Linked DNA regions of Homo sapiens: all the other regions are linked to region 2. The links come from fine-mapping of genetic effects on gene expression. A gene starts in region 2. Each other region holds a variant in brackets. All regions are shown on one strand. Distances are between the middles of the regions.

Region 1 (5,124 bases), 68 kb after region 2:
GGTCGGGCACCGTAGCTCACACCTGTAATCCCAGCCTTTGGGAGGCCGAGGCAGGTGGGTCACTTGAGGTCAAGAGTTCAAGACCACTTTGGCCAACATGGTGAAACTCCATCTCTACTAAAAATACAAAAATCAGCCAAGACATGGTGGTGCACGCCGGTAGTCCCAGCTACTTGGGAGGCTGAGGCAGGAGAACTGCTTGAATCTGGGAGGCAGAGGTTGCAGTGAGCTGAGATCATGCCACTGCACTCCAGTCTGGGCCACAGAGTAAGACTCCGTTTCAAAAAAAAAAAAGTAAGAAAATAGCTTTATTGAGATAATGGTTTGTATACGATAAAATTCTCTTTCAATTCATCTGCCAGCAGCAGAGATGAAAAAAAAATCACAATGCTGTACGACTAATAGCCTTATGTAATTTCAGAACATTTTCATCACTCCAAAAGAAACCCATACCCATTAGTATTCTTTCTCCATTTCCCCCAGCCCTGGAAAAGCTTCTTAAGTGGCTTAAAATATGTTACCAAACTACTTGCTAGAAAGGCTGTCCAATTTATGTTCCTATCAGCCATATGCCCATTTTTCCATATTTTCCCCAGAATTAATTATGATCATTAAAAATACTTAAGGCCAGGTGTGGAGGCTCACACCTGTAATCCCAGCACTTTGGGAGGCCAAGGTGGGTGGACTGCTGGAGCCCAGGAGTTCAAGACCAGCCTGGGCAACATGGTGAAACCTTGTTTCTACGAAAAATACAAAACAATTAACCAGGTGTGGTGACACACACCTGTAGTCCCCACTACCTGAGAGGCTGAGGTGGGAGGATGGCTTGAGCCCAGAGGTTGAGGTTGCAATAAGCCATGATCACACCACTGCTCTCGAGCCTGGGCGACAGTGAGATCCTGTCCCCCGCCAAAAAAAAAACTTAAGATAGAAATTAGTAAATAATTTCCATTTACATATATTTGAATTCTTTTCTTATTTGTGAGAGTGAAATTTTATATATCCATTGATTTTTTTTTCCCCTTTTGTGAACTGTCCCTCCACTCTGTCAGGGACTAAAATCCAATTAAATGATCAGTCTAAATAAAATATCCCTGGAATAGCAATTGGTGTCCAGAAACATCGTGAGAAATTCCAGAACCAAACATAAACTTTTGTGATTAACTATACCATGGAGCCTCACTATTAGTACCAGTAAATTAAAGTTTGCTATAATCATAAATAATGACCACATGTCTATTTTCAAAGACATGATTTCTAGGTTCCTTTGTTATTACAGATTAAGATTGTCTCAAGGGCACTTCAAAACAAAGCATCCCATTCTACAGGGACAGAAAGCCTGTTACTGTACAGCACTTGTGACCGCCTGGTTAATGAGCCCAAGTCACCGGTAAATTCAAAGGAAAAATTAACCCAACCTATATCATGCAGTGACAGTTGTTGCTTGCAAAAAAACCAGAAATGAAATCAGCTAGCTGCTAACAGTGGAGAGAAAGCACTCAACCATACAATTAGGGCAGATAAAAACTAAAGGTAAAGAGAGGGGAAGTAAATAAACCAAGGCATCCTTGGGAGTCTTCTCGGCTCACAAAGACAAGAACCCTGCAAAGACTATCATCAGGAACATTCACTCAACAGATTTCATTAGAAATCTGATGTGTAGCCGGGCGCGGTGGCTCACGCCTGTAATCCCAGCACTTTGGGAGACCGAGGCGGGCGGATCACGAGGTCAGGAGATTGAGACCATCCTGGCTAAAACGGTGAAACCCGGTCTCTACTAAAAATACAAAAAATTAGGTGGGCATGGTGGCGGGCGCCTGTAGTCCCAGCTACTCGGGAGGCTGAGGCAGGAGACTGGCGTGAACCCGGGAGGTGGAGCTTGCAGTGAGCCGAGATCGCGCCACTGTACTCCAGCCTGGGCGACAGAGCGAGACTCCGTCTCAAAAAAAAAAAAAAGAAAAGAAATCAGATGTGTAGATTTTTTTTAACAGAACAAATATCTCTACTTAAATGGGCTCCCCATCTTCCATTTCTTGTTTCTATTATTTTTTACTCAAATCCTAACCTTCTAACTCAGAATTGCTGTATATCCTTAATCACTTTTTTGGGTCATTTTTATTTATTTATTTTTTTGGGGGGGCGGACAAAAATAAAATTTTTACATTTCATTTGTGAAATAACAAATTCTATAATAACCTCCTAGAAATACAGTATGGTTCACTGAGACTAGTGACTGCAAAAAGCAGATCCCAACAGAGATCTCTACTTGGGACTCAGCTTGTGGACTGCTCCAAAACAATATTCCTAATTCATAGACTATGTAGATTCACAGATTGTTAAAAACCACAAAGCAGTCAAGGTGCAGTGGGTCATGCCTGTAATCCTAGCACTTTAGGAGACCAAGCCGGGAGGGCTGTTAGAGATGAGGAGTTTGAGACCAGCCTGGGCAACATATTGAGATTCTGTCTCTACAAAAGTTTTGCAAATAGGCTGGGCCCAGTGGCATGTGCCTCTAGTCCCAGCTACTTGGAAGACTGAGGCAAGAGGACTGCTGGAGCCCAGGAGGTAGAGGCTGCAGTGAGCTATGATTGTGCCACTGCACTCCAGCCTGGGCAACAGAGGGAGACCCTGTCCAGCCCAACAACCCCCGATTCCCCAGCAAAAAAAAAAAAAAAAAAAAAAAACTGAAAGAGCTCAGCAGTTATGTAGGCCTCCTTGAACTATCTCTTCATGTTAGGTGGGAGAGGGAGCTTGGAGTTCACACATTTCCAGTGTTCATTTACCCTCCTCTGATCTCAGAGTACAAGTCAAACCAAAAAGTTACCCAAACCTGTTCTTTTCTGATCCTGTCAGGATACATGCTTGTTGACTCTCACATTCTTCCCCCAAATCACTCATTCACAGATGAGGTTGAGACTAATGAAAACACAAGCTATTGGAAGGAACGGCCTGACATTTCTATTATTATGCTAGAGACAATAACAGATCAGTGACCAGAAGTAATCTAGGCTGGAAGACCTCTGATATGGCCACCATAAATTCTCTGGTACCTGAAAAAAAAAAAAGTATGAAAACCTTGGAATACTATGGTGACAAGGTATCTACATCTATCTCCATCTTTTTTTTTTTTTTTTAAGATGTAAGAGGGCATATTCACAGTTACGGCAAAATATGACTGAGGATACAAAACACTGAAAATTAAGAGCTACCTACCTGAATTCTGATGG[GT/G]TTTTTTTTGTACTCCTATCTCCTAATACCTCAAAATGCATAAAAATCTCAGTTAATGATATGTCATTTTTGTCCCATTATTCAATACAATAAAAGAGAAACTAAATATTTCAGATTTGATTTTTCTGACTTGAGCTAATGATCCTCCTCCCTTTCTTAAACATTTAAAATGTTTGTTAACTGAACAGTCAGTCACTCTTCCACATTTCTAAGCGAAATGTCAACACTCATACTCAATATGACACTACTAGAATGTGAAGCCCAAATTTCATTTTAAATCTCTAATTACCTACCAAGGAAGCTCATTTCCCCAAACAATTCTGTGAACTCCAATGCCAGACTATCCAAGTTTCTGGGGACTTAACAGTATCTGTGCCTTTCACATGTAGGAGTCCTCTCCAGAAATGGCATACCCAACTGTTCTTTTAGTCTCAAGAGTCACATTGTCGGCCAGGGACAGTGGCTCACACCTGTAATCCCAGCACTTTGGGAGACCGAGGTGGGTGGATCACCTGAGGTCAGGAGTTCAAGACCAGCCTGGCCAACATGGTGAAACTCTGCCCTACAAAAATACAAAAATTAGCCAGACGTGATGGTGGGTGCCTGTAATCCCAGCTACTCGGGAGGCTGGGGTGGGAGAATCGCTTGAACTTAGGAGGTGGAAGTTGCAGTGAGCCAAGATCACGCCATTGCACCCCAGCCTGGGTGACAGAGCGAGACTCCATCTCAAAAAAAAAAAAAAAAAAAAAAAGTCACATCCTCATTTTGTTGTCTCTCTCCTGCACCTTCTTAAAATGTGATGGGACTGTAACAAGAGTAACTGTGTTCTGGATACACAACAGACAAGCTACTAGGAAATGCCAAAGATAAAGACCAATCACAGCAATGCTTTAAGAGACCCAGAGTACAAAAGGGGTTCTAAGTGAGCCTCTAAACATAGCATGTTAATAAGCTTAAGTAAACACTGGTAGAGGCCAGCAAATTAAAGCTAGCTGTAACATCTAAAGATATGTCCCAGTCACAGCAGCTCTTTATGTGCAGACCTCAACCTCACATTCTGCTTCAGAAACCTCTCTCAGACAAGCGGCAGAAGAAAGGTCCCCTCCTCGCAGATCACGAGGTCAGGAGATTGAGACCATCCTGGCTAACACGGTGAAATCCCGTCTCTACTAAAAAAAAATACAAAAAATTAGCCGGGCGTGGTGGCGCGTGCCTGCAATCCTAGCTACTCGGGAGACTGAGTCAGGAGAATGGCGTGAACCCGGGAGGCAGAGCTTGCAGTGGGCCGAGATGGCGCCACTGCACTCCAGCCTGGGCGACAGAGCGAGACTCCATCTCAAAAAACAAAAATTAATTAAAAAAAAAAGGTCCCCTCCTCAAAAAGAACAGCATACATGCTACTAATTCATTTGCATTCATAAATCTTTGGTTTAAAAATCCATTTAAGGCCCGGTACAGTGCAGTGGCTCACACCTGTAATCCCAGCACATCGGGAGGCTGAGACAGGTGGATTGCTTTGAGGTCAGGAGTTTGAGACGAGCCTGGGCAACCTGGCAAAACTGTCTCTACAAAAAAATACAAAAATTAGCCAGGCATTGGTGGCGCATGCCTGTAATCCCAGCTGCTCGGGAGGCTGAGGCAGGAGAATCGCTTGAACCTGGGAGGAGGAGGTTGTAGTGAGCTGAGATCGTGCCATTGCACTCCAGCCTGGGCAACAAGAGCCAAACTGTCTCAAAACAAAAATAAGTAAACCCTGATAAAGTGTTTTTTTCCATCAGGCAGTCATACTTTGATACAAATTGGTTTAATGAGGCCCAGCCTTCTTGCTAGAGATACCAAAACCACTGTGGGAAATGTTTTGACTGGATAAAACACTCTTCAGTGAGGTGCTATAGT
Region 2 (5,129 bases):
ACCAGCCTGGACAACATGGTGAAATCCCATCCCTACAAAGGTTAACTGGGCTTGGTGGCACGTGCCTGTAATCCCAGCTACTCAGGAGACTGAGACAGGAGAATGGCTTGAACCTGGGTGGCTGAGGTTCCCGTGAGCTGAGATTAAAAAAAAAAATCATACTTCCCTAGTATCTAAAGTTGATATCTGATTCCAGGCCTCTTTCAACTTTTTTTGTTTGTTTGTTTGTTTTTTTGATATGGAGTCTCGCTCTGTCATCCAGGCTGGAATGCAAATGGCACGATCTTGGCTCACTGCAACTTCCACCTCCAGCGTTCAAGCGATTCTCCTGCCTCAGCTTCCCAAGTAGCTGGGACTACAGGCGTGTGCCACCAAGCCTGGCTAACTTTTTTTCTTTTTTTTTTTTTTGAGAGGGAGTCTTGCTCTGTCCCCCAGGCTGGAGTGCAGTGGTGTGATCTTGGCTCACTGCAACCTCCGCCTCTCCGGTTCACGCCATTCTCCTGCCTTAGCCTCCCGAGTAGCTGGGAGTACAGGCGCTCGCCAACACGCCCGGCTAATTTTTTGTATTTTTAGTAGAGATGGAGTTTCACCGTGTTAGCCAGGAGGGTCTTGATCTCCTGACCTCGTATCCGCCCGTCTTGGCCTCCCAAAGTGCTGGGATTACAGGCGTGAGCCACCGCGCCCAGCACCTGGCTAACTTTTGTATTTTTAGTACAGACGGGGTTTCACTGTATGTTGGCCAGGCTGGTCTCAAACCCCTGACTTGAGGTGATCTGCAAGCCTCAGCCTCCCAGAGTGCTGGGATTACAGGCGTAAGCCACCGCTCCTGGCCTAAGGTTGGCTATTTTTATGGTTATTTCTTGATTATATGATAAACAAGGGGTGGGTTAGTAATGAATTTTTCAGAAAAGGGGTGGGGATCCCCCCCAACTGAAGGTTCCTCCACTGTTTAGACCATATAGGGTAACTTCTGGACGTTGCCATGGCATTTGTAAACTGCCTGGCGCTGCTAGGAGTGTCTTTAGCATACTAATGCATTATAATTAGCGTATAATGAGCAGTGAGGACGATCAGAGGTCACCTTCCTGTCTTGGTTTTGGCAGGTTTTGACCAGTTTCTTTGCTGCATTCTGTTTTATCAGCGGGGTCTTGTGACCTTTTATCTTGTGCTGACCTCCTGTCTCATCCTGTGACGAAGGCCTAACCTCCTGGGAATTCAGCCCAGCAGGTCTCTGCCTCATTTTACCCAGCCCCTGTTCAAGATGGAGTCGCTCTGGTTGGAAACTTCTGACAAAATGACAGCTCCTGTTATGTTGCTGCTGCTGCCGCCAATGGACAGCCTTTAACGTGCCCGCCAGCCCTGCTCCACCGCCGGCCTGGGCTCACATGGCCCCATCCCTCCTCGAACCTCCTAGCCTGTTAGTTACTCAAATCTGCAAGCTCTCTGCCTTCTCAGGGCCTTCAATAAATGCATTTCTTCTGTCTGGAAGGCTCTTCCTTTCCCTCTTCTAGCCAATTCCTATTCATCCCTGAGTTTCAGATTAAAAGTCACTTCCTTTGGAAACCTTACTTCGCTACTTCGCTACTTACTGCACTACTTCGCAGCATCACAACTATGATGGAAATCCTTACTTACGTTAAATATCTGGTTTCTAGGTCACCTCCCTGACGGGGACGGTAGGGACCGTCTTCTCGTTCATCAGTAGGGAAGTAGCTATGGCAGTGCCTGATACAAAATAAACTCCAAATGTGTATTTATTAGATGGTTGGATGGAAGTTATTTGCGTGTGAAAGCGCGTTTTACCCGAAGGCGCTCTGTGAGGGCCAGCGGGTCCCCTTCGGCCCTGGAGCCGGGGTCACACGCTCCCCACCGCGTGCGGTCACGAGACGCCCCCAAGGGAGTATCCTGGTACCCGGAAGCCGCGACTCCTGGCCCTGAGCCCGGGCTTAGCCTTCGGGTCCACGTGGCCGGAGGCCGGCAGCTGATTGGACGCGGGCCGCCCCACCCCCTGGCCGTCGCGGGACCCGCAGGACTGAGACCATGGAGGCGGTGGCGGTGGCCGCGGCGGTGGGGGTCCTTCTCCTGGCCGGGGCCGGGGGCGCGGCAGGCGACGAGGCCCGGGAGGCGGCGGCCGTGCGGGCGCTCGTGGCCCGGCTGCTGGGGCCAGGCCCCGCGGCCGACTTCTCCGTGTCGGTGGAGCGCGCTCTGGCTGCCAAGCCGGGCTTGGACACCTACAGCCTGGGCGGCGGCGGCGCGGCGCGCGTGCGGGTGCGCGGCTCCACGGGCGTGGCGGCCGCCGCGGGGCTGCACCGCTACCTGCGCGACTTCTGTGGCTGCCACGTGGCCTGGTCCGGCTCTCAGCTGCGCCTGCCGCGGCCACTGCCAGCCGTGCCGGGGGAGCTGACCGAGGCCACGCCCAACAGGTACCGCCCCGAAGCTTCCCCGCGTCCGCCCGAGGCGCTTACCCCCTCCCGGAGCCGCTGCCACCCAAATCGGGAGGCTGAGCGGGGAGCGCTGGCCGGAAGGCCCAGCTGCGCCGCCTCCAGCAGCTGTGTGGCCTTGAGCCAGCCACTCTGCCTTTCAGAGCCTCGGCTGGCCCACCTGAAAAACGGAAAGAAGACGCCTACCGTGCAGTGTTATTGTGAGGATTTGCACGATGATGGGCATAGAATTTGTGGTGCACAATTGGTGATGAGTGAATTTTCTTGCCTTCCTCCCCCACCTTCTCTTTGAACCTGCGGACTGAGGAAGGACGCCTCCATCCCCCACCCTACAGGCCTGTGTTCCAGCGCCTGCCACACTATGGAGTGATGTGTTCACACAGCTGTCCTCCCCTGCCCATCTGTTAGACTGTGGGGGCAGGGATTCCCCGTTCCAGGAAAACACCGTGCAGAGGAGGGGCTCTGGCAGTGTGGCATGAAAGTGGAATATGCCACCCAAATACCCGCCAGGCTAGAGGGCCCTGGGAGAGTGCAGGGGACGAGTGCCTCAGAAGCCCAGCCCCGGTACCTGGTCTCAGCTCCACCTGGGGTGGGTCCCAGTGTGCAGCAGAAGGGCCGAGTTTGGAGCCCCTCCCCTCTCCTCTAGGTGGGGGATGGGGGATTTGTTCCAGGGCCGTGGACCCTCCAGGGTGGGATGCGCCCCTGCTCATGACACTGCCCGCAGGTACCGCTATTACCAGAATGTGTGCACGCAAAGCTACTCTTTCGTGTGGTGGGACTGGGCCCGCTGGGAGCGAGAGATAGACTGGATGGCGCTGAATGGCATCAACCTGGCACTGGCCTGGAGCGGCCAGGAGGCCATCTGGCAGCGGGTGCGTGCCCACTGTCCCTTCCCCACCCTCCTCTATGGCGGGAGCCACCGTAGGTGTTTTCACCCGCCCCCCAGCATGGGCGCAGTGTCTCTCTCTAGAAGTGCTTTCAGCGTGCACAGTGGCTTGGGCCTCCTAAAAACTGAGGCTTCCGGCCGGGCGCGGTGGCTCACGCCTGTCATCCCAGCACTTCGGGAGGCCTAGGCGGGCGGATCAGGAGTTCAGGAGATCGAGACCATCCTGGCCAACATTGTGAAACCCCGTCTCTACTAAAATACAAAGAAATAGCAACCTGGGCAACAGAGCGAGACTCTGTCTAAAAAAAAAAAAAAAAAAAACTGAGGCTTCCAGTTTGAGGAGTGGGGCTCCTTCCCCCATCTCCCCTATGCAGCCAATCACCTGGTCCCTTGGATCCAACTCATGGGCAGCTCTAGATCTGCCTCCCTGGAAGCTTCTGTGCTGCAATGGCTGCTCCAGGCTCTGCTTAAGCTCTTCACACAGTTGCCCTGCCCTTCCATCTGGCACTCTTGCTCCATGAAGCCTTCTAAGGCCTTCCTGTTGGGGGAAAGCCCCTTTGTGCCCCATCTCCTCACCCATGCGACAAAGGCAACACAGTGAACTCACCTACTCACAGGTCTCTTTCCTCTGGGCTGTGGGCTCCTTGATGGCAGCGTTCGGATTTTGTCTCAGTAGCCCTAGCACCCAGCACAAAGAAGCAATGAGTGAATGGTTGTTGAATGAATGAATGAATGAATGAAGATGAATATATTTCTATGTGTGGGCCCTTCTTCCTCAGGTGTACCTGGCCTTGGGCCTGACCCAGGCAGAGATCAATGAGTTCTTTACTGGTCCTGCCTTCCTGGCCTGGGGGCGAATGGGCAACCTGCACACCTGGGATGGCCCCCTGCCCCCCTCCTGGCACATCAAGCAGCTTTACCTGCAGGTAAAAGGATGGAAAAGGGAAGGGGCAGAATCGGTGATAGATGGTCATGGGCCCAGGAAGGGTGGTATTAGGCCGGCCCCAGGGCTCTTAACTGAGGCGGGGGGCTGCGTGTATCCTGGGAGATGAGGGCCTTCTCATAGGACAGCAGTGGCCATGCTCACCACCCTTCCTTCTGTTCCTCCAGCACCGGGTCCTGGACCAGATGCGCTCCTTCGGCATGACCCCAGTGCTGCCTGCATTCGCGGGGCATGTTCCCGAGGCTGTCACCAGGTGAGGTTCCGCTCACCCCCTCCACTTAGCTCAGAGAGGGAATTTTATTCCCTTCTAGAACATGACTTAAAAACTTAAGCTCTGGGCCGGGCGCAGTGGCTCACGCCTGTAATCCCAGCACTTTGGGAGGCCGAGTTGGGCGGATCACCTGAGGTCAGGAGTTCGAGACCAGCCTGGCCAACATGGTGAAACCCTGTCTCTACTAAAAATATAAAAATTAGCTGGGCATGGTGGCACGCGCCTGTAATCCCATCTACTTAGGAGGCTGAGACAGGAGAATTGCTTAAACCTGGGAGGCAGACGTTGCAGTGAGTCAAGATCACGCCATTGCACTCCAGCCTGGGTGACGAGCGAAACTCTGTCTCAAACAAACAAACAAGCTCTGGACGTAGGCCTGGGTTTGATTTCTGACTCTGCTACTAATTAGCTGTGTGACTTCGGGCAGATGACATGACTGCTCTGTGCCTCAGTTTCCTTACTTGTAAAATGGGATCTCTACCCACTTCGCTGTAGGGTTTGTAATTATCTCTCGATCTATCTGTGACTTTGCACAGAGTGCTAGCAAATGGCAGCCCTTGGGAGTGGCAGCAGGGGTGCTCCAGTGTC
Region 3 (5,129 bases), 91 kb before region 2:
CAGGCTAGTCTTGAACTCCTGGGCTCAAGCCATCTTCCTGCCTCAGCCTCCCAAAATGCTGAGATTACAGGTGTGAGCCACTGTGTCTGGCCAAGAAACCCCATGCCCTTTAGCCATCACGTTCCATTCTCCCCATCACCCCAGCCCTAGGCATTAATAATCCACTTTTTGCCTCTATAGATTTGTCTACTCTAGACATATCATATAAATGCAGTCACATATGTGGTCTTTTTTGACTGACTTCTTTCACTTACTATGTTTTCAAGGTTTTTGTTGTAACATGTGTCATTACTTCATCCCTTTTTATTGCTGAATAACATCTCATTGTATGGCTATACTACACTTTCTTTATCCATTCATCCATTGTTGAACATCTGGGTTGTTTCCAATTTTGGGCTATTGTGTATAATGCTGTTATGAACATTTGTGTACACGTTTTTCTGTGGACATTTGGTTTTTATTTCTCTTAGGTGTATACCTAGGAGTGGAATTGTTGGATTATATGGTAACTCTATGATAAGCCTTTTAAGAAATTGCCAGACTATTTTCCAAAGTAGTTGCCCCATTTTACATCTTCACCAGTAGTGAATGGGGGTTCCGATTTCTCCATATCTTCACCATGAATCTTTTTAAGAAAATAGATTATTGACCAGAGGTCAGGCATTCGAGGCCAGCCGGGCCAACATGGCGAAATCCCTCCTCTAATAAAAATACGAGTATTATTGGCTGGGCACGGTGGCTCATGCCTGTAATCCCAACACTTTGGGAGGCCGAGGCGGGTGGATCACGAGGACAGGAGATTGAGACCATCCTGGCTAACACGGTGAAACACTGTCTCTACTAAAAATGCGAAAAATTAGCCAGGTGTGGTGGCGGGCGCCTATAGTGCCAGCTACTTGGGAGGCTGAAGCAGGAGAATCGCCTGAACACAGGAGGCGGAGGTTGTAGTGAGCTAAGATCATGCCACTGCACTCCTGCATGGGTGACAGAGTGAGACTCTGTCTCAAAAACAAAACAAAACAAAAAACAAATATTAGCAGGCTGTGGTGATGCATGCCTATAATCTCAGCTACTCAGGAGGCTGAGGCAGGAGTATTGCTTGAACCCGGGGAGGCAGAGGTTGCAGTGAGCTGAGATCGTGCCATTGCACTCCAGCCTGGGCAACAGAGCAAGACTCTGTCTCAAAAACAAAACAAAACAAAACAGATTATTGATATATAATTCACATACCACACAATTCACTCAAAGAGTGCAATTCAATGGTTTTGGTATATCATGTTAATTTTTAAAATTGTGGTAAAATATAAAAGTTGCCATTTTAACCATTATATATATAAATATATGTGTGTGTGTGTGTGTGTGTGTGTGTGTGTGTGTATATATATATTTTTTTTTTTTTTTTGAGATGGAGTCTTGGTCTATTGCCAGGCTGGAGTGCAGTGGCATGATCTTGGCTCACTGCAACCTCTGCCTCCCGAGTTCAAGCAATTCTCCTGCCTCAGCCTCCCAAGTAGCTGGGACTATAGGCACACAACACCATGCTCAGCTAATTTTTGAATTTTTAAATTCTTACTCCTTCTAGGACTCTGACGACATAATTTTCTTTCTTTCTTTCCTTTTTTTTTTTTTTTTTTTTGAGGCAGAGTCTCACTCTGCTGCCATGTGAACTATGTTGGCCAGGATGACCTTCTTGATCTCTTGACCTCGTGATCCGCCCACCTTGACCTCCCAAAATGCTGGGATTACAGGCGTGAGCCACTGTGCCCGGCCATATATATATATATATATATATATATATTTTTTTTTTTTTTTTTGTAATATAGAGACGGAGCCTTGCTATGTTGCTCAGGCTACTCTTGAACTCCAGGCCTCAATGTATTCTCCCACCTCAGCCTCCTAAAGTTCTGGGATTGTAGAAATGAGCCACTGTGCCTGGTCCCCATTTTAACCTTTTTTTTTTTTTTGAGATGGAGTCTTGCTCTGTTGCACAGGCTGGAGTGCAGTGGTACGATCTCGGCTCACTGCAACCTCCACCTCTTGGGTTCAAGCAATTCTTCTGCCTCAGCCTCCCGAGTAGCTGGGATTACAGGCACTCGCCATCATACCCAGCTAATTTTTGTATTTTTAGTAGAGATGGGGTTTCACCATGTTGGACAGGTAGTGCTCGAACTCCTGATCTAAGGTGATCCACCTGCCTCAGCCTCCCAAAGTGCTGGGATTACAGGCATGACACCGCGCACAGCCTTAACCATTTTTTAATGTACAATTCAGTGGCATTAATTACACTGACAATGTGCATAACTATCACCACTATCTATTTCCAAAATAAAAGAGAAATTCTGTTCCCATTAAACAACAATTCTCCATTCCCTGCTTCTCCTAGCCCCTGGTAATCTGTAATCTACTTTCTGTCTCTATAAATTTGCCTAGTCTAGTCTAGTCTAGATATTTCACTTAAGTGGAATCATACAATATTTGTCCTTTTACAATCTGCCTTATTTCACTTAGCATGTTTTCAAGTTTCATCCATGTTGTAGCATGTGTCATACTTTCATTCCTTTTTATGAAATTTAATTTTAATATTAAAGAATATTTCAGTCCAGGTGTGGTGGCTCATGCCTATAATCCCAGCACTTTGGGAGGCTGAGGTGGTCAGATTGCTTTGAGCTTAGGAGTTTGAGACCAGCCTAGGCAACATGGCCGAACCCTGTCTCTACTAAAATACAAAAATTAGCCGGCCATGATGGCGGGCGTCTGTAATCTCA[A/G]GTACTCGGGAGGCTGAGGCAGGAGAATCGCTTGACCCCGGGAGGCAGAAGGCGGAGGTTGCAGTGAGCCGAGATTGTGCCACTGCACTCCAGCCTGGGCAGCAGAGCGAGACTCTGCCTCAAAAAAGAAAAGAAAAGAAAGAAAGAAAGGGGAGAGAGGGAGAGGGAGAGAGGGAGAGAGGGAGAGAGGGAGAGAGGGAGAGAGGGAGGGAGAGAGAGAGAAAGAGAGAGAGAAAGAGAGAGAGAGAGAGAAAATTATGTCGTCAGAGTCCTAGAAGGAGTAAGAATGTAAGACCGAAAACTTATTCAAAGAAATAATGGGCTGGGTGTGGTGATTCACGCCTGTAATCCCAGCACTTTGGGAGGCCGAGGCAGGAGGATCACGAGGTCAGGAGATCGAGACCATCCTGGCTAATACAGTGAAACCCCGTCTCTACTAAAAATACAAAAAAAAATTACCCGATGTGGTGGCGGGCGCCTGTAGTCCCAGTTACTCGGGAGGCTGGGGCAGGAGAATGGCGTGAACCCGGGAGGCGGAGCTTGCAGTGAGCCGAGATCGCGCCACTGCACTCCAGCCTGGGTGACAGAGCGAGACTCCGTCTCAAAAAAAAAAAAAAAAAAAAAAAAAAAAAAAAAAAAAAAAAGAAAAAGAAAAAAAAAGAAGAAATAATGGCAGAAAATTCCTCAAATTTGACAAGAGACCTAGAACTACAAGTTCAAGAAGCTGAGAAAACCACAAACATGATAAACTCAAAGAAATCTATACCAGGACACGTAATAATCTAACTCCTGAAAACTAATAACAAAGAAAAAATCTTGACAGCAGTAAGAGAAAAACATCTTTCTCATAAGGGAAAAACAGATTGAACCACAATAGATTTCTCACCAGAAACTAAAAAAGGCCAGAAGAAAGTGGCACAACTTTTTTCAAATGCTAGAAGAAAAAAACTATCAAAGATGAAAGAGAAATCAACACATTTTCAGATGAAGAAAAACTAAGAGAATTTGTCATTTGTAGATCTACCCTTTAAAAAAGTGGCTAAAAGGGGGCCGGGTGCAGTGGCTCATGCCTGTAATCCCATCACTTTGGGAAACCGAGGCAGGCGGATCACTTGAGGCCAGGAGTTTGAGACCAGCCTGGCCAACGTGGCAAAACCTAGTCTCTACTAAAAATACAAAAATTAGCCAGGCATAGTGGCACATGCCTGTAGTCCCAGCTACTCTGGAGGCTGAGGCAGGAAAATCGGTTGAACCTGGGAGGTGGAGGTTGCAGTGAGCAGAGATCGCACCACTGCAATCCAGTCTTGGTGACAGGGCAAGACTCCATCTCAAAAAAAAAAAAAAAAAAGCTAAAGGAAGTTCTTGAAAAGAAAGGGAAATGATAAAAGAAGGGACCTTGGAACATCAAGGATGAAAAAAGAACGTGGAGTGGCCCACACTTGTAATCCCAGCACTTTGGAAGGCCGAGGCGGGCGGATCACGAGGTCAGGAGATCGAGACCACGGTGAAACCCCGTCTCTACTAAAAATATAAAAAATTAGCCGGGCGTGGTGGCGGGTGCCTGTAATCCCAGCTACTCAGAGAGGCTGAGGCAGGAGAATGGCGTGAACCCGGGAGGCGGAGCTTGCAGTGAGCTGAGATCGCACCACTGCACTCCAGCCTGGGTGACAGAGCGAGACTCTGTCTCAAAAAAAAAAAAAAAAGAAAGAAAAAAGAACGTGGAAAGCAAATATATGAGTAATTGCAATATACTTTCCTTCTTGTATTAGTCATCTAGGGCTTCCATAACAAAATACTGCAGACTGGGTAACTTAACCAACAGAATTTATTTTCTCACAGTTCTGGAGGCTGGAAGTCTAAGACCAAAGTGTTGGTAGGTTTGGTTTTTCCTGAGGCCTCTTTTCTTGGCCTGTAGATGGCCACCTTCTTGCTGTGTCCTCCCATGGCCTTTTGTCTGTGTGTGACCACTCCTGGTGCTTTTTCCTCTTCTGAAAAGGACACTGGGCCGGGCGTGGTGGCTCACCCCTGTAATCCCAGCACTTTGGGAGGCCAAGGCAGGCGGATCACCTGAGGTCGGGAGTTCGAGACAAGCCAACATGGAGAAACCCCATCTCTACCGAAAAAACAAAATTAGCCGGGCTAATCCAACAGGACTGGTGTCCTTTTTTGTGGGGGGGGACGGAGTCTTGCTCTGTTGCTCAGGATGGAGTGCAGTGGCACAATCTCAGCTCACTGCAACCTCCACCTCCCAGGTTCAAGTGATTCTCCTACTTTAGCCTCCCGAGTAGCTGAGATTACAGGCATGTGCCACCACACCCAGATAATTTTCTTTTTTTTTTTTTTAGTAGAGACGGGGGTTTCAAC
Region 4 (5,129 bases), 320 kb before region 2:
GAGGGTATGAAGCAACTTCTATGCTAAAGTAAGCCTCTGGAGAGATCTAACCTCTGGAGTGAACCTAGGAGTCCCAAATCCCATTCATAGTTTCACCCAAGGATTCAAAATAATATTTACTGAGTACTGACTGTGTGGCAAGCATTTTCTATGTTATCTAATTTAATCTTCCTAACAATGCTGTAGAGCAAGAGTATCCCTGTGCTGCAGACACTTGCTGGAAACTCAGGCTCAGAGAGGTAAAGTGAACTGCCCATGTGGTCATGGAGTGAGGAAATGGTGGAGTCTCAGTTCAAACCCTGGCCCGATGTCAAGCCCATGTTCTTTCCACTTTCCACATTCTTTCTATTCTGCCTCCCACTAAAGAAAACAGCGTCTTTTTTCCTATGCTTTTTTTTTATTATTGAGATGGAGTCTCACTCTGTCACCCAGGCTGGAGTGCAGTGGTGCGATCTCGGCTCACTGCAACCTCTGCCGCTCGGGTTCAAGTGATTGTCGTGCCTCAGCCTCCCAAGTAGCTGGGACTACAGGCATGTGCCACCACACCCAGCTAATTTTTCGGTATTTTTTAATAGAAACAGGATTTTGCTATGTTGGCCAGGCTGGTCTCGAACTCCTGACCTCAGGTGATCCAACCGCCTCGGCCTCCCAAAGTGCTGGGATTACAAGTGTGAGTCACTGCACCCGGCCTTTTCCTATGCTTTTTAAAAGGATAATACATAAATGAGATTCATGACACCGGCATTGATTTTGGGACCCACATGCCCGAGGAATACACTCACAGGCTCTGCAAAAGCATTGTCCCAGAGAACAGTGGCCGTCGCATTGTTGTCCTGGCTGCCATGAACGATCACCACCACTGGCAGGGACAGGGTCTAAAAAGACACAAGAGAAGGCTGAGCGCCCACGAGCCTCAAGTTCTTCTCCTTCTCTCTTTTTTTTTTTTCTTATTATAACAACACTTTTATTTTCCAAGTTTCAGTTAATGTTCCTCTCAGACACAGAATCTAAATGGCCCCAGGAATAATATGACTTTTCATACTGGCACAATCTTAGAAATTTTAAATATTTTACAAGCAATGTTGCTTAGATATTTCTGAAGGATAAAGTTTCTCAAAGTTACATGGAGAACAGGAGAGAGAAAAGACTATTGGAGATATTTCTGGGAAGAAAATACAAATAACAAATTTAAAACTTACCACAACCTTTACTCAAATTCATCCCAAGTAATGTTTCTCATATCCATTTTGTAGTCTACCTCTCCAGCTAGTTCAGTTCATTATTGTTTGTTCATGTTTTATTTTTTATTTTTTAATTTGTTGTTGTTGTTGAGACGGGGTCTCACAACCAGCTCCAGGCTGGTCTGGAACTCCTGAACTCAAGCAATCCTCCTGCCTTGGCCTCCCAAAGTGTTAGGATTACAGATGTGAGCCACTGCACTGGGCCTTGCTTGTTCATGTCTTTTTTTTTTTTTTTTGAGACAGGGTCTCACTCTTTCACCCAGGCTGGAGTGCAGTGGCACAATCTCGGTTCATTACAACCTCAGCCTCCCAGGTTCAAGTGATTCTCCTGAGTAGCTGGGATTATAGGCACGTGCCACCACGCCTGGCTAATTTTTGTACTTTTTAGTAGAGATGGGGTTTCACTGTGTTAGCCAGGCTGGTCTTGAACTCTTGACCTCAAGTGACCTGACTGCCTCAACCTACCAAAGTGCTGGGATTACAAGCATGAGCCACTGTGCTTGGCCTCTGTTCATGTCTTAAGAGAACCTAAGTGAAACAGTTCTCAGGGTGAGGTCAGTCCATTTTCAGTTTACCAACAGTCAAAAAGAAGAAGATGCTATGTGATAAAAAAAAAATATTTTGTAACATAAAGTACACCACACACACACACGCACACGCACACGCAGAGCTGAGGGAAGGCTTTACCTTGACTTGAAAAACCAGCTCATTTCCACCAACACTGAACTGGGATTCAAACAGGATTGTAAATTTTTCTTCTGTCACCGACTCTGCCCCACGACGGTCTGACCTCTTAATTCGTTTCAGGGACTACAAAGAAGAAACATAAGATGAAACGTAAGATATAAGTTGTTCCCCTCAAAGACCAGGGAAAAATTCATTCTTCCTCTTCTTCCACCCTCACCATATTCCTGAAGTGGGCACTAAGGGTGCCTGTGGCTTGGTGGTACTCCATGACGCAGCAGTTGTTCAAGATCTCGCCACTGTAATCACTGCAAATCAGAGAGAGACCAGCTCCAAACCCATGCCAGGGTCTCAGGACATGCGGAGTAAATAATATAATTTGGGGTAGCAGGAAATAGAGAAGTTTGCTAAAAATGTACGTCATTTAGAGGAAATGTTAGCTACATAACACATACATGTAATCTTCTCGGACGTATCTCTACAAAATGAAACAAGATCAAACTATCTTCACAGAAAACAGTTCCTAAGAGAACTTTTTTTTTTTTTTTTGTGACGGAGTTTTGCTCTTGTTGCCCAGGCTGGAGTGCAGTGGCGTGATCTCAGCTCACTGCAATCTCAGCTCACTGCAATCTCTGCCTCCCAGGTTCAAGGGATTCTCCTGCCTCAGGCTCTCTAGTGGCTGGGATTACAGGTGCCTGCCACCACGCCCGGCTAATTTTTTGTATTTTTAGTAGAGACAGGGTTTCACCATGTTGGCCAGGCTGGTCTTGAACTCCTGACCTCAGGTGATCTGCCCACCTCGGCCTCTTAAAGTGCTTGGATTACAGGTGTGAGCCACCACACCAGGCCCAAGAACTTCCTTATATTCCTTTGCTGATGCCCAGAAGAGGCCAGAAGGGCAAACAGGGATCTGACACAGGAGGCAGAATTCTTTTTTTCCTGTTGCCAGGACATGAGACAAGTAGCAGGGAATGAGAGGAAGCTGCACAATTACTTGCGGGTGTTCTCGTTCTTGAGCAGAGACTTGGCCTGCTGCTCACTGATGATGGTGGCCTTCACCTG[G/T]GGGGGGTTCATGTGCACGTTCAGCTTCCCGCCCACCAGCAGGCGCACAGTGGCTGCAAACTTGGTCTGGGTCTTCAGGACCTGAGGAGGCTGCTTCTCAATGATGAACGTGCTGCAGGGGACACAGGGACAGATGCATGATGAGGGGCTGGTGCAGGGGAAAGGGCTCTCAGTCCCTCTGTGGTGGGGGTGGGGCTGCCTCCCGAGGGGCTCAGGAGGTGAAGAGCTCGGGCACAGCCTCTGTTCCTGGGGAAGCCGTGAGAGTCCAGGGAGAGGATGGAGAGGGGAGTGAGATAACACAGAAGCTGGCATGGGCTGCAGCCCAAGGGCATCTCTTGCAGTGTCCACAGGAGAAACTGGGCAAGGGCCACAGCAACTGGAGATGGAGTTGGGAGGGATGAGAGGCAGGAAGTGGATCTGCTGGTCTGGAAGGCACCTGCGGCTCCCCCCACGCAGGCAGGAGCTGCCCCAAGCTCCTGGGCATGGCAAACAGGCAGCAGTCACCTGGTCACCAGGGCTGAGATAATGTCCGTGATGGTGGCGTTGACCTCGGCCAGCATCTCCTCCACTGGGCCGGGGATGGGCAGCTGCTGGCAGAGGTGCTCAGCCCTGCGGATCTGCTGCCGGTTCTGCCAGATGATCTCGGCCAACTTCTCACACCTGCACGAGAGCCCCAAGGCCAACAGGAGGACAATGGCTCCTCCGCACAGACGCCAGGCCCCAAGACACAGCTCCCGTTCCCCCAGGAAGGCTCTGTGCTTTCGCCACACTTCCCACCCATGGGAAGAGCAGAGCTCCCTGCCTCCCAGAATTAGAGACGTACACAGGAGGGGCGACCCTGACTAGGCCCAAACAGCCCAAGCATCACCCCACACACCCGAACCCTGTCCCATCTCCAGGACAGCAGCCCCCTTCCTGGGGGAGGTGCACAGGATGGGGGCCAAAGTCTGATTGAGGAACCAGGCTCCCTGGAGAAACAAGAGCTGTCCCAGGATGGAGGGGGCCTGCTGCAGGAGCCAGCACAGGACGCAGAAGCAGCCGGGATCCCCACCAGCCCCTCCTGCCCTGCCCGCTGGCCGCCCCACACCATTACCAGGACTGTAGCACGTCCAGGCTGCCCTCGGGGGGCCCGCCGTTCCCGGCCAGCTGCTGCCGCCGCTTCCACTGGATCAGCTCGTCATCCAGGATGATGGTCTGCTGCTTCCGCAGCAGCTGCAGGGTCTTCTGGTGCTTCTCGGCCAGCTCCTGAGGGAAGGGAGGAGAGCAGCCCCTTCTGGGCTCCCAGAGAACACCGCAGGGCCTCGCTGGGAAATGGCAGGGCAGGGCCCAGGCCGTTCCCTCTCCCCAAGCTGCTCTGCCTCGCAAGGCCCCCAGGAAAAAAGGCCTCCTGCCCTCCCAGGTTCTGCTCTCATGCTGGTCCCAGCCCTCCCTCGGGTCCCCAGAGACTGACTTCATGGCACCCACGCCCAGGAGAGGCCCAGGACCCCACTCACCACGCGGTACTGCTGCAGTGTCTGTGCCTCACGCTGCAACCAGGCCTCCAGAGACACCTGCTTCTGCTGGAGGGCCGTCTCCCGGCTCAGACGCTCCTGGGGGCTCAGCTGGGCCAGCGGGCCAAACTGAGCTAGAGGAGGGGAGAGGAAACCATGACCATCACCTCCCAGTGTCCAACAGGAGGCCCAGAGAAGCCCACTCACCCGTTCTGGAGCGAGACCCTCCTGGGCTCAGATACTGCATTAAGGGCAAGTCGGGGTTCCTGACAGCCAGGGGGGCCAAGATGAATGGGTGCCCCAGGAGGCGCCTCTGGGCCCTGCTCGCCAGCCTCCTGACTCTGAGCCGTCCCCTCTGGGGGCACACGGGTGCTGGGGCAGCTGGGGAGGAGGCCTGCCTGCCTCCTGCCCGCCTGCCTCACAGGGCTGCCAGCCCTCTTCTCGCGGCCCAGCATGGGTCCAGGCTGTCTGGGGTGTAAGTGTGCCCATGCCCTTGACTGCAGGTGAACCTGGGCAAATCGCTTTCCTTTCCTGTGCCTTGGCTTCCCCACGTGTAAAACGGGAGATTCTCGGCACCTGCCTCAGTGGGGTGCATTAAGATTAAATACATGAGGACATGGAAGATGCCAGAAAGCTGCCTGACATGGGTGAG
Region 5 (5,000 bases), 58 kb before region 2:
AGGCCTTCAGACTTATCATCTGGTTTATACACAGTTTTTCCCCCTTTTTGCTATGTTTATGATCCCATGACTTTATCAAGTTATGGTCCCTGTGCCACTTTTTAAGAGTGTGGCTGACAGGGGTAGAATCAAATTGAAATTTGGAATGAAAATGATAGAGAAAAACTCTTCTGATTTTTTGTCTTATTGTGCTTTTGAAGAGGATGATTGTTCTGGTTTACTCCTAGTTTTTGGTCAAACAAGTATTGCCTGGGTATTAGAGTTGGGGAGATGAGGCAATGGAGAAGTTGATTGGACTGGTTTTTGTTTTGTTTTGTTTTGTTTTGTTTTTTGGAGCAGCTTCTCCTTTCTGATGGGAGTAAAGGGTGGTAGGATGAGTTCGGTAGAGAGAGGCTAGGAAATGTAGACCTGCGTGTGGGAAGATCCTTCTTCATTTCATTGTATAAACTGTCATGGTGGAAGTCATTTTAAATCTTACCAATTAAACCAGCCCATGAACTCTAGTTTGGTTTATTATCTGTTGTTTTTCCTTCACTTTACTTGATTCTTGAGCTGTGTTCTCAAGAATCCTACAACTGTAAAGCCTATGTGAACTTATTTAGAAGATTCCTAGTCAGAAAATGGGACATTCAGATATGTTTTTACAGGCCTGCCCAGCTATTGTGCTTCTTATCCTTTTGAAGACATAAATACTCTTTAAATCCCATGGCTTGGATCATTCTATAAGTGGCCATGCTGAAAGTTCTCATATTCTGAATTTTAAAGGGGCTGGAAACGTAGATACCTGGAGCTTCCCCTTCTGTCTTTCTCCAGACTTCACAGCATTCAAAGACAGTGGCAGTGCCTTGCTTCTTCCTTGGAAAGAGAGCCTCTATCTTTCACATTCTCACGTAGGGAAAATTCTAGTTTGTAGCTGCCTAGAAATTAAATGTTCAGAGTATCTGCAGAGTCTCTTCATTATTGCACAGAAAGAAGAGATATTTTAGCTTCCTATCTACATGCAGAGGTATTTCCTGGCACTTTCATCATTCATTCAGGGAAACGTAGGAGAGAAAATGGCTTCCACCAAGTAACAGATTTATACATGTCACCATCACTTAATTTTTTTTCCTTTTGCTCCTTATTTCTAAAACCATTTCCCCAGATGCTTTACTGGGGCAATTATGCTTTCTTTACCTCAAATTTATTTTCTGTGTTTTCATCCCCTATTCTTCTTGTCTTTTTATGGATATATCTTGTCTTTTCGTGGTTTGTTTTCTTTTTCATCCTTATTTTCTGAACCTGTCTCCTGGTTCCTCGTTGCCTGCATGCCACTAACTATTTTCATTAGATATTAATTGATTTGTGAATTCAGGCTGAATTGCATCATCAGCAGATGGCGGATCCAGACTTGTTGGAAGAGTCCTCATCCCTCTTGGAGCCAAGTGAGATGGGAAGAGGCACTCCTTTAAGACTTGGGTAAGTGCCATGTCAACTTTTCGGTATTCAGTGGGGCCATGTTCATCTCTTCTGTTCAGAAGAGCAGTGAGACTGGGGATTCACTTGCTACCAGGATATGCCCTCTTCTGAGCCTATTGAGATAGTCCTACAACTCTGGATTCATGCCTGAGTTGCTCTGTCAGCTCTCTGCTGGGTCCATAAGTGAAGCTGGGAATAAGACTTGTATTAAACCAACCCAAATGTCCATCAATGATAGACTGGATTAAGAAAGTGTGGCACATATACACAATGGAATACTATGTAGCCATAAAAAATGATGAGTTCCTGTCCTTTGTAGGGACATGGATGAAGCTGGAAACCATCATTCTCAGCAAACTATCACAAGGACAAAAAACCAAACACCACATGTTCTCACTCATAGGTGGAAATTGAACAATGAGAACACTTGGACACAGGAAGGGGAACATCACACACCGGGGCCTGTTGTGGGGTGGGGGGAGGGGGGAGGGAGAGCATTAGGAGATATACCTAATGTAAATGACGAGTTAATGGGTGCAGCACACCAACATGGCACATGTATACATATGTAATGAACCTGCACGTTGTGCACATGTACCCTAGAACTTAAAGTATAATAAAAAAAGATATATATATAAATATAAATAAAAAAGACTTGTATTAAAACCTTCCATCCCATGACATGGAATAGAGTTTCCAATCTGCCTCTTCTCCCCACAGCTTCGTGGCTGGTGTCATTAACCGGGAGCGCATCCCTACTTTTGAGCGCATGCTTTGGCGGGTATGCCGGGGAAATGTGTTCCTGCGACAGGCTGAAATCGAGAACCCCCTGGAGGATCCTGTGACTGTAAGACAAGGAGATTGCATCCTGTGGAGTAGGTCTTGTAAAGGGAGCCCAGAGCAGTAACGTAGCATGGGGCCACCTGAATCCAGTGCTTCCACAGAGGAGCCATTATCTTTATCTCTGCTCTAATTGGAGAATTTGAAGTACTTCCTCTTAGTTAATTCCTGTCATATATACATATGGATGTATGATGTATACATGACATATACATATTTTCAAGTTTACCCGTGTAGATGTTATTCTGATTGGAAATTTTTATTTTCACTCATTTGCCTTTTATGAAAATTAACTTTAAAGCAAGACATCTGGTTCCAAATTTGGTAATTTTTTTTTTTTTGAGG[T/TA]GGAGTCTCACTCTGTTGTCCAGGCTAGAGTGCAGTGGCGCGATCTCGGCTCACCACAACCTCCGCTTCCTGGGTTCAAGCGATTCTCCTGCCTCAGCCTCCCGAGTAGCTGGGGATTACAGGCATGTGCCATGATGCCTGGCTAATTTTTTCTGTATTTTCAGTACAGACAGTGTTTTACCATGTTGCCTAGGCTGGTCTTGAACTTCTGATCTCAAGTGATCTGCCTGCCTCGGCCTCCCAAAGTGTTGGGATTATAGGCATAAGCCACCATGCCCAGCCCCAAGTTTGGTAATATTCATGTATAAAAAGAGAAGGAGAGATTTCCTAGACTGTGATCTTAATAAGCTGATGAAATTTTACTTGGTAAAGTTTTTTTGTTTGTTTGTTGGAAGGATTAGAAACTTAGTTTAAGAATAGATATCGCACAAAATAGGATGATCTTCCCCACCCAGTACTTCAGGAAGTAGAAACAGTTTAACATCCTGGCATTTGCCATAATGGGACAGAGTTTATCGTCTAAACCTGCATTTAGGTATGGTGAGTCCTGATTTCAGGGAGTACCAGTGAAGATAAATGTACTGCAAAAATTTTGCTTTGCTTTTGTACTAGTATTATTTAGAAACCTAAAGTTAGCTTTTCTGTTCTAAATTATCTTGTGAATTTCTTAAATTCGTGTTCTTTACCTAAAAAGAGAGAGATTGAATTGTGAGATTTCTCAGATTGGGTGGGCTGTGCAGCTGCAGGTCTTTCATCCTCCATGCCGTGGAGGAGTGTGGTTACACTTCAGGTGAACCCCCTGCCTAGGGGTGTAGTTTCACAATCTTGCCAAAGGCCATCAGGTTGTGGAAACGTTGTAATTTGTAGTCACATTAATGAGGAACTTTTCTCAGGAATATTCAGTCAAGTTTCCTCTTGGCAACAGAAAGGTTATTTTATCAACAAATCCAGAAATGGGGACCCTGGATATCTGTAACAGAGCAGGCTGCACAAAGAATGGGTTCTAGTTTAGCCTACAGAATTTAGGGATTTCAGACCCTTGAGCCCAATTTTCTTCACTCCTCATCCCCTTTTATCCTTCTAAAGTTTTGTTTGTTATTATAAAAGCTCTACATGCTGTGTATGACTATGAGAAAATACAGGCAACCTGAGACAATCCTGGTTAACACACCATACACCTTTTTTTCTGATCTTTCCTTCCAGTCCTTGCATCATACTTCAGGTATAAATTTGGTATTTGGAATGGATTACCTTCCTCCCTGCCCCATAAAGTCCAGATTAGCTTGAATTGTGAGATTCTATATCAGCATTCTTTCCAGGGACTCAGTTCCTTGTAGTTATTCAGCCCCTTTTATCTAAGAATTTCTAAGTCCCAGAACAGGCAGAAATGGCTTCCTTCTCTTTTCTCTCCTATACTTTCATCATTCAGGCAATATAAGATTTAAAGCTGAATTGGTAAATAAGTCTAAACAGTGCTAAGAGGAGCATCATCTTAGCTTCAAGCTCCTGGTTGAGTCAAAAAAACAAATAGAGAAAGATTTTTGTGAATTAGAGATTATAGGGCAGATGTTCTTGTAGTGAAGCTTAGGAAATGGAGTGAGGGCAGTGGTTAAAATGCAGGACTGCCATGTCCTTAAAAGATGCCTGTTGTTCTTGCATCACCAAAAAAGTGGGTTATTTAAGAGATTTTCATCCAGATACAGAAGTCTGAACTCTTGTTTTTTTATTCTGGGGCCTAGGGCGACTACGTGCACAAGTCTGTGTTTATCATTTTCTTCCAAGGCGATCAGCTGAAAAACAGAGTCAAGAAAATCTGTGAAGGGTAAGAGAGGCATGCCTCTACCAGGAGTGCACAGCCATGCTGCCCAACTGTTGAGTCTTAAAGTTCACAATAGTGAAATACAAATCCTTTTTAGTCTACCTCAACACAGTTAATTTTAATAATGTTAGGGGCTATTTTAATCAATTAGAAATAGCCTGCATTCATTTTTATTTTTATTTTTGTTGTTCAGATGGGGGGGTCTCACTCTGTTGCCCAGGCTGGAGTGCAGTGGCATGATCACGGCTCACGGCAGCCTTGACTGCCTGGGCTCAGGGGATTCTCCTGCCTCAGCCTCTAGGGTAGCTGGGACTACAGGCGTGTGCCACCATACCTGGCTAATTTTTTGTATTCTTTGTAGAGACGGGGTTTTGCCATGTTGCCCAGGCTGGCCTGGAACTCCTGGACTCAAGGGATCTGCCCATCTCAACCTCCCAAAGTGCTGGGATTAGAGGCGTGAGCCACTAAATTCTTTTTCTCTTTTTTTTTTTTTTCTGACCGAGTCTCCCTCCACGCCCAGGCTGGAGTACGATGGTGC

Which allele goes with the higher level. Alleles are on the strand shown, and positions count from the first base shown. SD is a standard deviation of normalised expression in the study named. Not every link is listed here.
For the expression in monocytes after interferon gamma of the gene that starts at base 2,009 in region 2, allele GT in region 1 goes with a lower level than allele G (large effect, 1.4 SD a copy in Fairfax 2014).

What was found.
Region 1: its variant is fine-mapped to the expression of NAGLU in monocytes after interferon gamma (Fairfax 2014, PIP 0.95).
Region 3: its variant is fine-mapped to the expression of NAGLU in lung (TOPMed, PIP 0.95).
Region 4: its variant is fine-mapped to the expression of NAGLU in whole blood (TOPMed, PIP above 0.99).
Region 5: its variant is fine-mapped to the expression of NAGLU in whole blood (TOPMed, PIP above 0.99). The same link has a PIP of 0.9 or more in lung.

The regions. Positions count from the first base shown.
Region 1 is chr17:42,602,035-42,607,158 of GRCh38, forward strand. All of the region lies in intron 1 of RETREG3 (reticulophagy regulator family member 3), which reads right to left. Among named protein-coding and RNA genes, the nearest start is that of RETREG3, 4.8 kb to the right of the region's middle. The variant GT/G (reference allele first, on the strand shown) is at 3,228.
Region 2 is chr17:42,534,233-42,539,361 of GRCh38, forward strand. NAGLU (N-acetyl-alpha-glucosaminidase) reads left to right here and starts at 2,009. Exons shown (of 6, transcript NM_000263.4): 1 at 2,009-2,423; 2 at 3,166-3,313; 3 at 4,107-4,253; 4 at 4,438-4,523. The coding sequence starts at 2,041. RefSeq lists enhancers at 1,722-1,801, 2,315-3,052 and silencers at 1,912-2,321, 2,442-2,511.
Region 3 is chr17:42,442,772-42,447,900 of GRCh38, forward strand. All of the region lies in intron 3 of LOC102725238 (a long non-coding RNA gene), which reads left to right. Among named protein-coding and RNA genes, the nearest start is that of ATP6V0A1, 14 kb to the right of the region's middle. The variant A/G (reference allele first, on the strand shown) is at 2,766.
Region 4 is chr17:42,215,232-42,220,360 of GRCh38, forward strand. It overlaps STAT5B (signal transducer and activator of transcription 5B), which reads right to left. Exons shown (of 19, transcript NM_012448.4): 6 at 4,481-4,611; 7 at 4,081-4,232; 8 at 3,492-3,647; 9 at 2,920-3,099; 10 at 2,146-2,233; 11 at 1,929-2,051; 12 at 783-875. Among named protein-coding and RNA genes, the nearest start is that of GHDC, 23 kb to the left of the region's middle. The variant G/T (reference allele first, on the strand shown) is at 2,988.
Region 5 is chr17:42,476,285-42,481,284 of GRCh38, forward strand. It overlaps ATP6V0A1 (ATPase H+ transporting V0 subunit a1), which reads left to right. Exons shown (of 22, transcript NM_001130021.3): 6 at 1,376-1,458; 7 at 2,179-2,305; 8 at 4,383-4,465. Among named protein-coding and RNA genes, the nearest start is that of MIR548AT, 16 kb to the right of the region's middle. The variant T/TA (reference allele first, on the strand shown) is at 2,644.